Homo sapiens: one gene and its partner. Each later gene encodes a partner of the first gene's protein in a complex. Each region holds a gene or a part of one and is shown in the gene's direction. Other genes may lie near its edges.

Region 1 (7,051 bases):
TTTGGGATGTTAGACAAGGTACTATGCCTGTATCTCTGCTGAAGGCTCATGAAGCTGAAAGTAAGTATTGTGAAGATACAGAAAGTTTATATTGGGTGAGTTATATGACATATAATAAGCACCTTTCCATAATGATACATGTGGATCATTTTACATCATAGCTTTTAATGGCTGAATTGTGTAAATTTAAATAGTTATGTAATTTCTTTTTACTCGACATTTAAGTTCTTTAACATTTGTTTTTGTTTTTTTGGAGACGGAGATTCACCCTTGTTGCCCAGGCTGGAGTGCAATGGCGCTATCTTGGCCCACCGCAACCTCTGCCTCCTGGGTTCAAGCGATTCTCCTGCCTCAGCCTCCCGAGTAGCTGGGATTACAGGCATGCACCACCACACCTGGCTAATTTTATATTTTTAGTAGAGACTGGGTTTCTCCATGTTGGTCAGGCTGGTCTTGAACTCCTGACCTGAGGTGATCTGCCCAGCTCGGCCTCCTAAAGTGCTGGGATTACAGGCATGAGCCGCCGTGCCTGGTTTTTTTTTTTTTTTTTTTTTTAAAGAGACAGGGTCTGGTTCTGTCGCCCAGGCTGGAGTGCAGTGGTGCAGTCACGGCTCACTACAGCCTTGACTTCCAGGGCTCAGGTGATCCTCCCGCATCAGCCTCCCAAGTAGATAGGACTATAGGTGTGTGTCACCATGCCTAGCTGATTTTTTGTTGTTGTTTGTTTTTTTTTTTGTAGATATGGGGTTTCACTTTATTGCCCAGGCTGGTCTCAAACTCCTGGGCTCAAGTGATCCTCAGGAAGTGCTGAGATTACAGGTATGAGTTATGAGCCACCACATCAACCACAGGTTTAATTCTTATATCCAAAACTGTAGTTAGAATCCTTAGATATTTATCTCTGTGTGTGTTTTTTTTTTTTTTTTTTTTTTGGAGACAGGGTCTCTCTCTGTTGCCTAGGCCAGAGTGCAGTAGTGGTGTGATCATAGCTCATTGCAGCCTTGAACTCCTGGACTTACACGATTCTCCCAAAGTGCTGGGCATAGCCATTATGCCCATGCCCAGCCTTATGTACTTATTTTCTTAGGATAATTTTTTAGAAGTAGAATTGCTAGGCCAAACATTTTGCATAGCGCATTGACAGATTTTTCTACACAAAAATAATACCAGTTTAAGCCAGGCACATTGGCACATGCCTGTAGTTCCAGGCTCCTCCTACTCAGGAGCCTGAGGCAGGAAGATTGCTTGAGCCTGAGAGTTTGAGGCCAGCTTAGGCAACATAACCTCTTTAAAAAGTTAATAATACTAGTTTAATCCAGGTGAGTGGCATGCACCAGCTTCTCAGGAGGCCGAGGCAGGAGGATTGCTTGAGTCCAGGAATTCAAGGCTGTAGTGCATTATGATTGCACCTATGCACTCCAGCCTGGACAATATAGTGAGACCCCACTCCCTGAAAAGTGATAAAAATCATACCATTTTATATGCCATAGTGAAGTGTGCAAGAATGCCCTTTTCCCATGCAAATGCAGGCTGTCATATTTGTTAATAAATGTTGTGCTCCTCAATTTATTGTTGCATCACATCATTTTTTTTAACATGAACAATAGATTTATAAGCTTTTTTTTTTCTTTTGATTCTGGTGGAGATGATTTAGCCGGACAGAAATTTTTCATTTTCTCACTCTGTCTTTGATATCATGCCAGAATGGATTATCCTTTTTTTTTTTTTTTTTTGAGACAGAGTCTTGTTCTGTCGCCCAGGCTGGAGTGCAGTGGCACAATCGCGGTTCACTGAAACCTCTGCCTCCTGGGTTCAAGCCATTCTTCTGCCTCAGCCTCCCTAGTAGCTGGGACTAAAGGCATTTGCCACCATGCCTAGCTAATTTTTGTATTTTTAGTAGGAATGGGGTTTCACCATGTTGGCCAGGCTGGTCTCAAACTCCTGACCTCAGGTTATCTGCCTGCCTTGGCATCCCAAAGTGCTGGGATTACAGGTGTGAGCCACTGCGCCCGGCCCTATATATTTTTTTAAAAATGGGGTCTCTCTCACCCAGGTTGGAATGCAGTGGCATGATCACAGCCCACTGCAGCCTCAGCCTTGCCTCCCTGGCTCAATCAGTCCTCCCACCTCAGCCTCCCGAGTAGCTGAGGCTACAGGCACGCACCCCTACTACACCCGGCTAATTTTTTATTTTTTGTAGAGACAGGGTCTCAATATGTTGCCCAGGCTGGAGTGCAGTGGCATGGTACCTCACTTAAGCCTCAACCTCCTGGGGTCAAGTGATCCTCTTGCCTTGCCCTTCTGAGTAGCTGGGACTACAGGTATATGCCACTACACCTAGCTAATTTTTTTTATTATTAGATTTCTATAGAAATTATGATTCCATAAAAGATTTTGAGGAAATGATGGCCGGGGGCGGTGGCTTATGCTTGTAATCCCAGCACTTTGGGAGGCCGAGGCAGGTGGATCACCTGAGGTCAGGAGTTCGAGACCAGCCTGACCAACATGGAGAAAGCCCGTCGCTACTAAAAATACAAAATTAGCCGGGCGTGGTGGCACATGCCTGTAATCCCAGCTACTAGGGAGGCAGAGGCAGGACAGTCACTTGAACCTGGGAGGCAGAGGTTGTGGTGAGCCAAGATCGCACCATTGCACTCCAGCCTGGGCAACAAGAGTGAAACTCCGTCTCAAAAAAAAAACAAAACAAAACAGATTTTGAGGAAATGAGGAAGACTGGTATCTTTCAGAATTGAAAGTGATTTTGGAATATATAGAATTTCTTTGGGGCTGGGCACGGTAGTTCATGCCTGTAATTTTAGCACTTTGGGAGTCCAAGGCAAACAGATCTCTTGAGCCCAGTTGTTTGAGACCAGCCTGGGCAACATGGAGAAACCCCATGTCTGTTAAAAATACAAAAGTTAGCCAGGTATGGTGATACATACCTGTAGTCCTAGCTACTCAGGAGGCTGAGATAGGCGGATTGCTTAAGCCTTGGAGGTCAAGGCTGCAGTGAGCCATGACCATGCCATTCTGCACTCCAGCCTGGGCGCCAGAGCAAGACCCTGTTTCAAAAAGAGAGAGAGAATTTCTTTGAGTTGAATTATGTAGAAGTTTGTCACTGACCTATGTTCCTAAAGTATGAAGCATACATATGTGGGCTAAGAAATAGTTTTTCTTGATAAATAATCAACAAATAAAAAATAAAAAGCCCTCCATCTGAGACTGGATCCAAATTCTTGGAACATTTCCAAATTTTGGTTTGGTAGAAGTCAGTTGCTATTTCTGTGATAAAGACCAGAAGTATTCAGAATCTTGGCATTAACCAATATTGGATATTGCCTCTTAGAAATTCATTTTTATATTTCATTAGGATCTTTCTCAGTTTTTCCAATAATATAATCTTCATATATTAATGACACAGGAATTGAAAAATAAGACAACTTACCAATTTAAAAAAAAACTTTTCCGTAAAAGACAGTCATTCCTAGCTGGGCACACACCTATAATTCCAGCACTTTTGGGAGGCTGAGGCAGGAGGATTGCTTGACGCCAGGAGTAGAAGACCAAGGTAGACAACATAGCAAAACCCTGTCTCTATTTAAAAAAATAAAAATAAAATAAAATAAGCTTTTTCATAAAGTAATAGGGTTAAATGTTTTAGCAATGATTTTCTTTTCTTTTTTTTGAGACGTAGTTTTGCTCTTTTTGCCCAGGCTGGAGTGCAGTGATGCAATCTCAGCTCACTGCAACCTTGCCTCCCGGGTTCAAGCAATTCTCCTACCTCACCCTCCCAAGTAGCTGGGATTACAGGCACCTGCCACCACGCCGGGCTAATTTTTTGTATTTTTGGTAGAGATGGGGTTTCACCATGTTGGTTAGCTGGTCTTGAACTCCAGATCTCAGGTGATCCACTCACCTCGGCCTCCCAAAGTGGTAGGATTACAGGCATGAGCCACTGCGCCTGGACATTTTTTTTTTTCCTTGAGACAGAGTCTCACTCTTGTTGCCCAGACTGGAGTGCAATGGTGTGATGTTGGCTCATTGCAACCTCTGCCTCCCGGGTTCAAGCGATTCTCCTGCCTCAGCCTCCTGAGTAGCTGGGATTATAGGCACCCACCACCATGCCTGGCTAATTTTTAGTATTTTTAGTAGAGACGGAGTTTCACCACGTTGGCCAGGCTGGTCTTGAACTCCTGACCTCAAGTGATCCACCCACCTTGGCCTCCCAAAGTGTTAGGATTACAAGCATGAGCCACTGTGCCTGGCTACTATTTTCATTTATTTCCTTGCCCAGTACGCAAATTTAGTTGGCTTCTTTTTCCTTTCTTTTCTTTTTTTTTTTTTTTTCTCAGACAGTGTCTCACTTTGTCGCCCAGGCTGGAGTGCAGTGGTGCGAGCTCGGCTCACTGCAACCTCCGCCTCCCAGGTTCAAGTGATTTTCCTGTCTCAGCCTCCTAAGTAGCTGGGACTACAAGCACGCGCCACCACGCCTGGCTAACTTTTGTATTTTTAGTAGAGATGGTGTTTCACCATGTTGCCCAGGCTGGTCCTGACCTCAGGTGATCCACCCGCCTTAGCCTCCTAAAGTGTTCTTTTTCCTTTCTATGTGTTATAGCCATTGGAAAGTTACATTATGTCTTTTCTTTAATTCTGAAGCCTTTAATTTTTAGGACAGACTTGAGGCTCGAAGGTATGTGATGGAGGATAATGGAAGATGATGCCTAGAGATGGGGGTTTAATGTTGTTTGTTCAGCGAATCTGCACAGGAATGAGCTTATTGATTCTTGTCTCTTAGTGTGGGAAGTTCACTTTCACCCATCCAACCCAGAACATCTTTTTACCTGCTCTGAAGATGGATCCCTCTGGCACTGGGATGCTTCCACAGATGTACCTGAAAAGTCGTCACTCTTTCACCAAGGTAAAACTTTTTAATGAATACTGTTATGTGTACTTTTTTTTTTTTTTTTTAAGACAGAGTCTCACTCTATCACCCAGGCTGGAATGCAGTGGCACGATCTCAGCTCACTGCAACCTCCGCCTCCTGGGTTCAAGCGATTCTCGTGCCTCAGCCTCCCGAGTAGCCAGGACTACTAGTCATGCACCACCGTGCCCGGCTAATTTTTTTGTATTTTTAGTGGAGATGGGGTTTCACCATGTTGGCCAGGCTGGTCTCGAACTCCTGACCTCAAATGATCCGCCTGCCTCAGCCTCCCAAAGTGCTGAGATTACAGGAGTGAGCCACCACACCTGGCCTTTTTTTTGAGACAGAGTCTTACTCAGTCACCCAGAATGGAGTGTAGTGGTGCAGTCTCAGCTCACTGCAACCTCTGCCTCTCAGGTTCAAGCTTTTCTTGTGCCTTAGCTTCCCTAGTAGCTGGGATTACAGGTGTGTGCCACCACAACTGGCTAATTTTTTTGTATTTTTAGTAGAGATGGGGTTTTGCTATGTTGGCCAGGCTGGTCTCAAACTCCTGGCCTCAAGTGATCTGACCACCTCAGCCTCCCCAAAGTGCTGGGATTACAGGCATGAGCCACTGTGCCCAGCCTGTTATGTGTAATTTTATCATACTTTTATTTTGTTTTTTTTTTGTTTGAGACAGCGTCTCACTCTGACATGCAGGCTGGACTGCAGTGGCATGATCACAGCTCGCTACATCCTCGCCCTCCTGGGCTTAAGTGGTCCTCCTGCCCCAGCCTCCCAAATAGCTAAGACCAGAGATGCTTGCAACCACAACCAGCTAATTTTTTTTTTTTAATTTTTTTGTAGAGATGAGCTCTCACTATGCTGCCCAGGCTGCTCTCAAACTCCTGAGCTCAAGCAATCTTCCTGCCTGGGCCTCCCGAGGTATTGCAATTATAAGCATGAGCTGGCTGTACCCAGCCATTTTATACTTTTAAATACCAAATTAGACATCCTCGTATTTTTTACTTAATGGCAAAACATTTTTATTCTCTTGCCTCAGAGTAAATTTGAGTATCACAGGGCTTGAAATCTGACTGTCAAGTTACTTACTACTGTATGGCTGATGGCTAGAAATGCTGTAAGCTGGCTCACTTGAGACAGCCAAGGTTCTCCTTTGTGAGTGCCATTAACCTGGACCCTCATGCCATAGCATAGACAGTGGCAAATCTTTCATATTGCATTGCCAAGTTTGTGTGAATGGCAAGAAAAAAGTTGATATTTGATGTAACTGAGGGTACTGGTTAAATGGCCTGATCTCAGGCCGGGTGTGGTGGCTCATGCCTGTAATCCCAGCACTTTGGGAGGCCAAGGCAGGTGGATCACCTGAGTTTGGGAGTTCGAGACCAGCCTGACCAACATGGAGAAACCCCGTCTCTACTAAAAATACAAAATTAGCCGGGTGTGGTGGCTCATGCCTGTAATCCTAGCTATTCAGGAGGCTGAGGCAGGAGAATTGCTTTTACCCAGGAGACAGAGGTTTCAGCGAGCCGAGATTGCACCATTGCACTCCAGCCTGGATAGCAAAAGCGAAACTCCGTCTCAAAAAAAAAAAAAAAGGGCGTGCTTTCCTCATTACAGTCAGTTGTAGGTTATGGTCAGCCAAAGACCATGCACTTGTAATCGGGGTTTATGTGTTTTTGCATTTTCCAAGTTTCCTGTTTTTGAGGGTTTGTCTGTGGCTCCAAAGTTCTTTTGCTTATTCATTTATTCAGAAATATTTACTGAATGCCTACCATGTGGTAGGCATTCTTCTAGGTGTTAGGACGTGTAACAGTGAGCAGAACGAAATGTCGAAACGCATAGAGCAAATATTCTAATAGTTAAAAAAATAGATAATGTATCAGTAAGAGTCCAATTAGAATGTCAGAAACTACCTTAGATGTAGAAGGAATTGGTCTCACATGTGTTAGAAGGGCTGGGAAAACAAAAGGTAATAGGAGGGGTGCTGGGAGAACAAATAGGAAGAAAAGGGAAAACCCAGAAATAGTAATTGTTAGTACCCCTGCTACTTGACTGTTGAAAATGCTGTAAAAGTTTGTTCTGAATTAGGAGAAAAGGCGCTCCCTCAACCAGGCTGAAACTACCACC
Region 2 (2,563 bases), on another chromosome or scaffold:
AGCCCGCTTCAGAAAAGCTTGTCATTATCCATAGGATACGATACTTAATTTTACGCTTCCTTATTTCTTAGGTGGTCCACAATTAGTGAAAATCTGTTTGCAACCACTGGTTATCCTGGCAAAATGGCAAGCCAGTTTCAAATTCATCATTTAGGACACCCTCAGGTAATGTGGAAATGTTTTGTAACATACGTGCTTTTTTTTTTTTTAATTTGTGTTTTTGACTTTTCCACTCATAGCCCCAAATTTGTAATTTGTTGACTGAAGACATTTACGTTTGTTATCTGCTTAAATTGCAAGAAAAGGTGGTTCATTTGTTTTTGTTTTTTGTGTGGTTTTTTTTTGATGTTTACATTACCAGTGACAACAGGTTTTTTTGGCCAGTATTCATATAAGAAGCTTTTTATTCTGTTGCTTTTATATTTTCTTCTTTATTTAAATACATTAATTTTGCTTGTTTGGTTGGTGTAGACTGCAAAAATGGAGTCTGGACTGTACCAGTTATTCATAGATGGATTGTATCCCATGTTTCAGCTGCGTATCAATAATGTGTATTTCACCTGTAAGGGAGCATATTTTTAAATTTTGTTTATGCTACAAAGATAAATCATCAATGCATTTCATATTTTTGAAAGTCATTTTTATTTATTAATTTTGGGGACTTACTGTGCTTCTTTAATTCTTCACATATTTTATAGCCCATCCTCATGGGTTCTGTAGCCGTTGGATCTGGACTGTCCTGGCATCGAACTCTCCCTCTGTGTGTAATTGGAGGAGACCACAAGCTGTTGTTTTGGGTGACTGAAGTATAAAGTGTTTTCTGTACCTTAGATTCACAAACTTTGTATTTTTAGTACATATTTTGAAGAATTTCTATAGTACATATTTTGAAGAATTTTTATATCAAATATACCGTATACTTTAGAAAATGTCTCAGTTGCTTTTATTAAATAAAATGTTGATGGTTTGAAAAATTATTTTTCTACTCTGTTCTCTGTGTGTGTATATATATATATTTTTAATCTTACAAAATCATATTGACTCAGCAGCTCACCTCCAGAGAAGAGATGACTAAGGAAAAATAATGCTTTTGAGTTTATCAAAAAAGGAGTATTTGAAGTGTATCCTGTTTTCTATACTTTGAGTATATGCTGTTTTTCTAATTCTCAGGGACACATTTATCAAAAGAGAAAAAAAGGCCAGGTACAATGGCTCACACTTGTAATCCCAACACTTTGGGAGGCTGAAGGGAGTGGATCACTTGAGGTGAGGAGTTCAAGACCAACCTGGCCAACATGGTGAAACCCTATCTCTACTAAAAAAATAAAAATAAAAAAAATTAGCCAAGCATGGTTTGGAAGACTGAGGCAGGAGAATCACTTGAACCTGGAAGGCAGAGGTTACAGTGAGCCAAGATCGTGCCACTTCACTGCAGCCTGGGCGACAGAGCGAGACTATCTCAAAAGAAAAAAAATCCAAGGAGAAAAAAATATCTTAGGGTATTCTGGAAGTGGTTGTTGAGTATATATATGTGTATGTGTACTCAATTTAATGTAAAAAATTGTTTTCAGTTTCTTAAATATGTGATTGATTATATTGCTCAACCCTGTTTATTATACGCAGATTCCTTTGGACGAGGTGTTCTAACAGTCTTAGAACATCTGATATATGGGATCAAAAGTTACCTTGAAAAATGACTTCTAGTGTATACCTTTAACAGCCTCCTTTTTGTGAATTTTCACTGTTCTTACCAAGAAACTTAAGTGTTTTTGAGATGGGACCTGTTGGCAATGGAACTGTGTTCACCCTCTCAAAGATCATTAAAATCAACGTTATCTAAGACAGCTGTATCACATTTTTGGGATACATCATGGTACAGTCAGAAGCATATAAAATTATGGTTCTGCTTGTCAGTCACATACAGAATCCAATACATTTTGACAAACTGCCCATTCCTGCAAGTTAATGCCCTTTTTGAAGCTTCATTTCCTCTTGTAAAGTACAGATAGGAATCATTATTTTGTGGAGTTGCTGTAAAGATTAAATAAAGGTGAATGAAAATACCTAGTATGTGTCTGTCACGTGGTTCAGAGATGTATAGAAATTATTTATTTCAGAGATGAGTAGGTCTTATTTTTGAGGTTTTAGAGATTTATGTTTAATGCCAGTAAATATTTTTTACTCCAGTTTTCTATTCTTAAGGTGTCTTAAAATAATTGTAGAATCAAGAACATTATATTTTTAAGAGATAGGAGAATGTTCCAGGTAATTAAAAGAAAGAATTCAGTGAAATTTTATAACCATGTAGATGTTTGGGTTCAACTTTTACATGCTTTAAAGTACAGATGAAAAATTTTATAGCAATTTCCTAGTCAATTTTTTAATACAGTTAAATATTATAACCAAATGATATAAATTGTTTTGTTTACCCCTTCATAAGAAGATTTTGAACTAACAAAGGAAAAAGCAAAGAGCAAGGAATTTTGACATGGTTCTCTTTAAGAATCTCTGTGATGGGGCAAGGATTCCTAAAAGCATCAGGATAGCCAAAGGGCTATCAATA

The links. Proteins that work in one complex are often made in the same cells at the same time.
Region 2: NUP43 (region 1) and NUP37 share a complex: the UniProt entries of both Homo sapiens proteins name them as parts of the nup107-160 subcomplex of the nuclear pore complex.

Annotation. Positions count from the first base shown.
Region 1 is NC_000006.12:149,729,480-149,736,530, reverse strand, and holds part of NUP43 (nucleoporin Nup43), read left to right. Parts: coding exon 1-60; intron 61-4,795; coding exon 4,796-4,918; intron 4,919-5,767; coding exon of another isoform or gene 5,768-5,898; exon of another isoform or gene 5,899-7,012; coding exon of another isoform or gene 7,013-7,041; exon of another isoform or gene 7,042-7,051. UniProt on the Homo sapiens protein: Component of the Nup107-160 subcomplex of the nuclear pore complex (NPC). The Nup107-160 subcomplex is required for the assembly of a functional NPC.
Region 2 is NC_000012.12:102,072,603-102,075,165, reverse strand, and holds the end of NUP37 (nucleoporin Nup37), read left to right. Parts: intron 1-71; coding exon 72-165; intron 166-698; coding exon 699-812; 3' UTR 813-2,063; downstream 2,064-2,563. UniProt on the Homo sapiens protein: Component of the Nup107-160 subcomplex of the nuclear pore complex (NPC). The Nup107-160 subcomplex is required for the assembly of a functional NPC.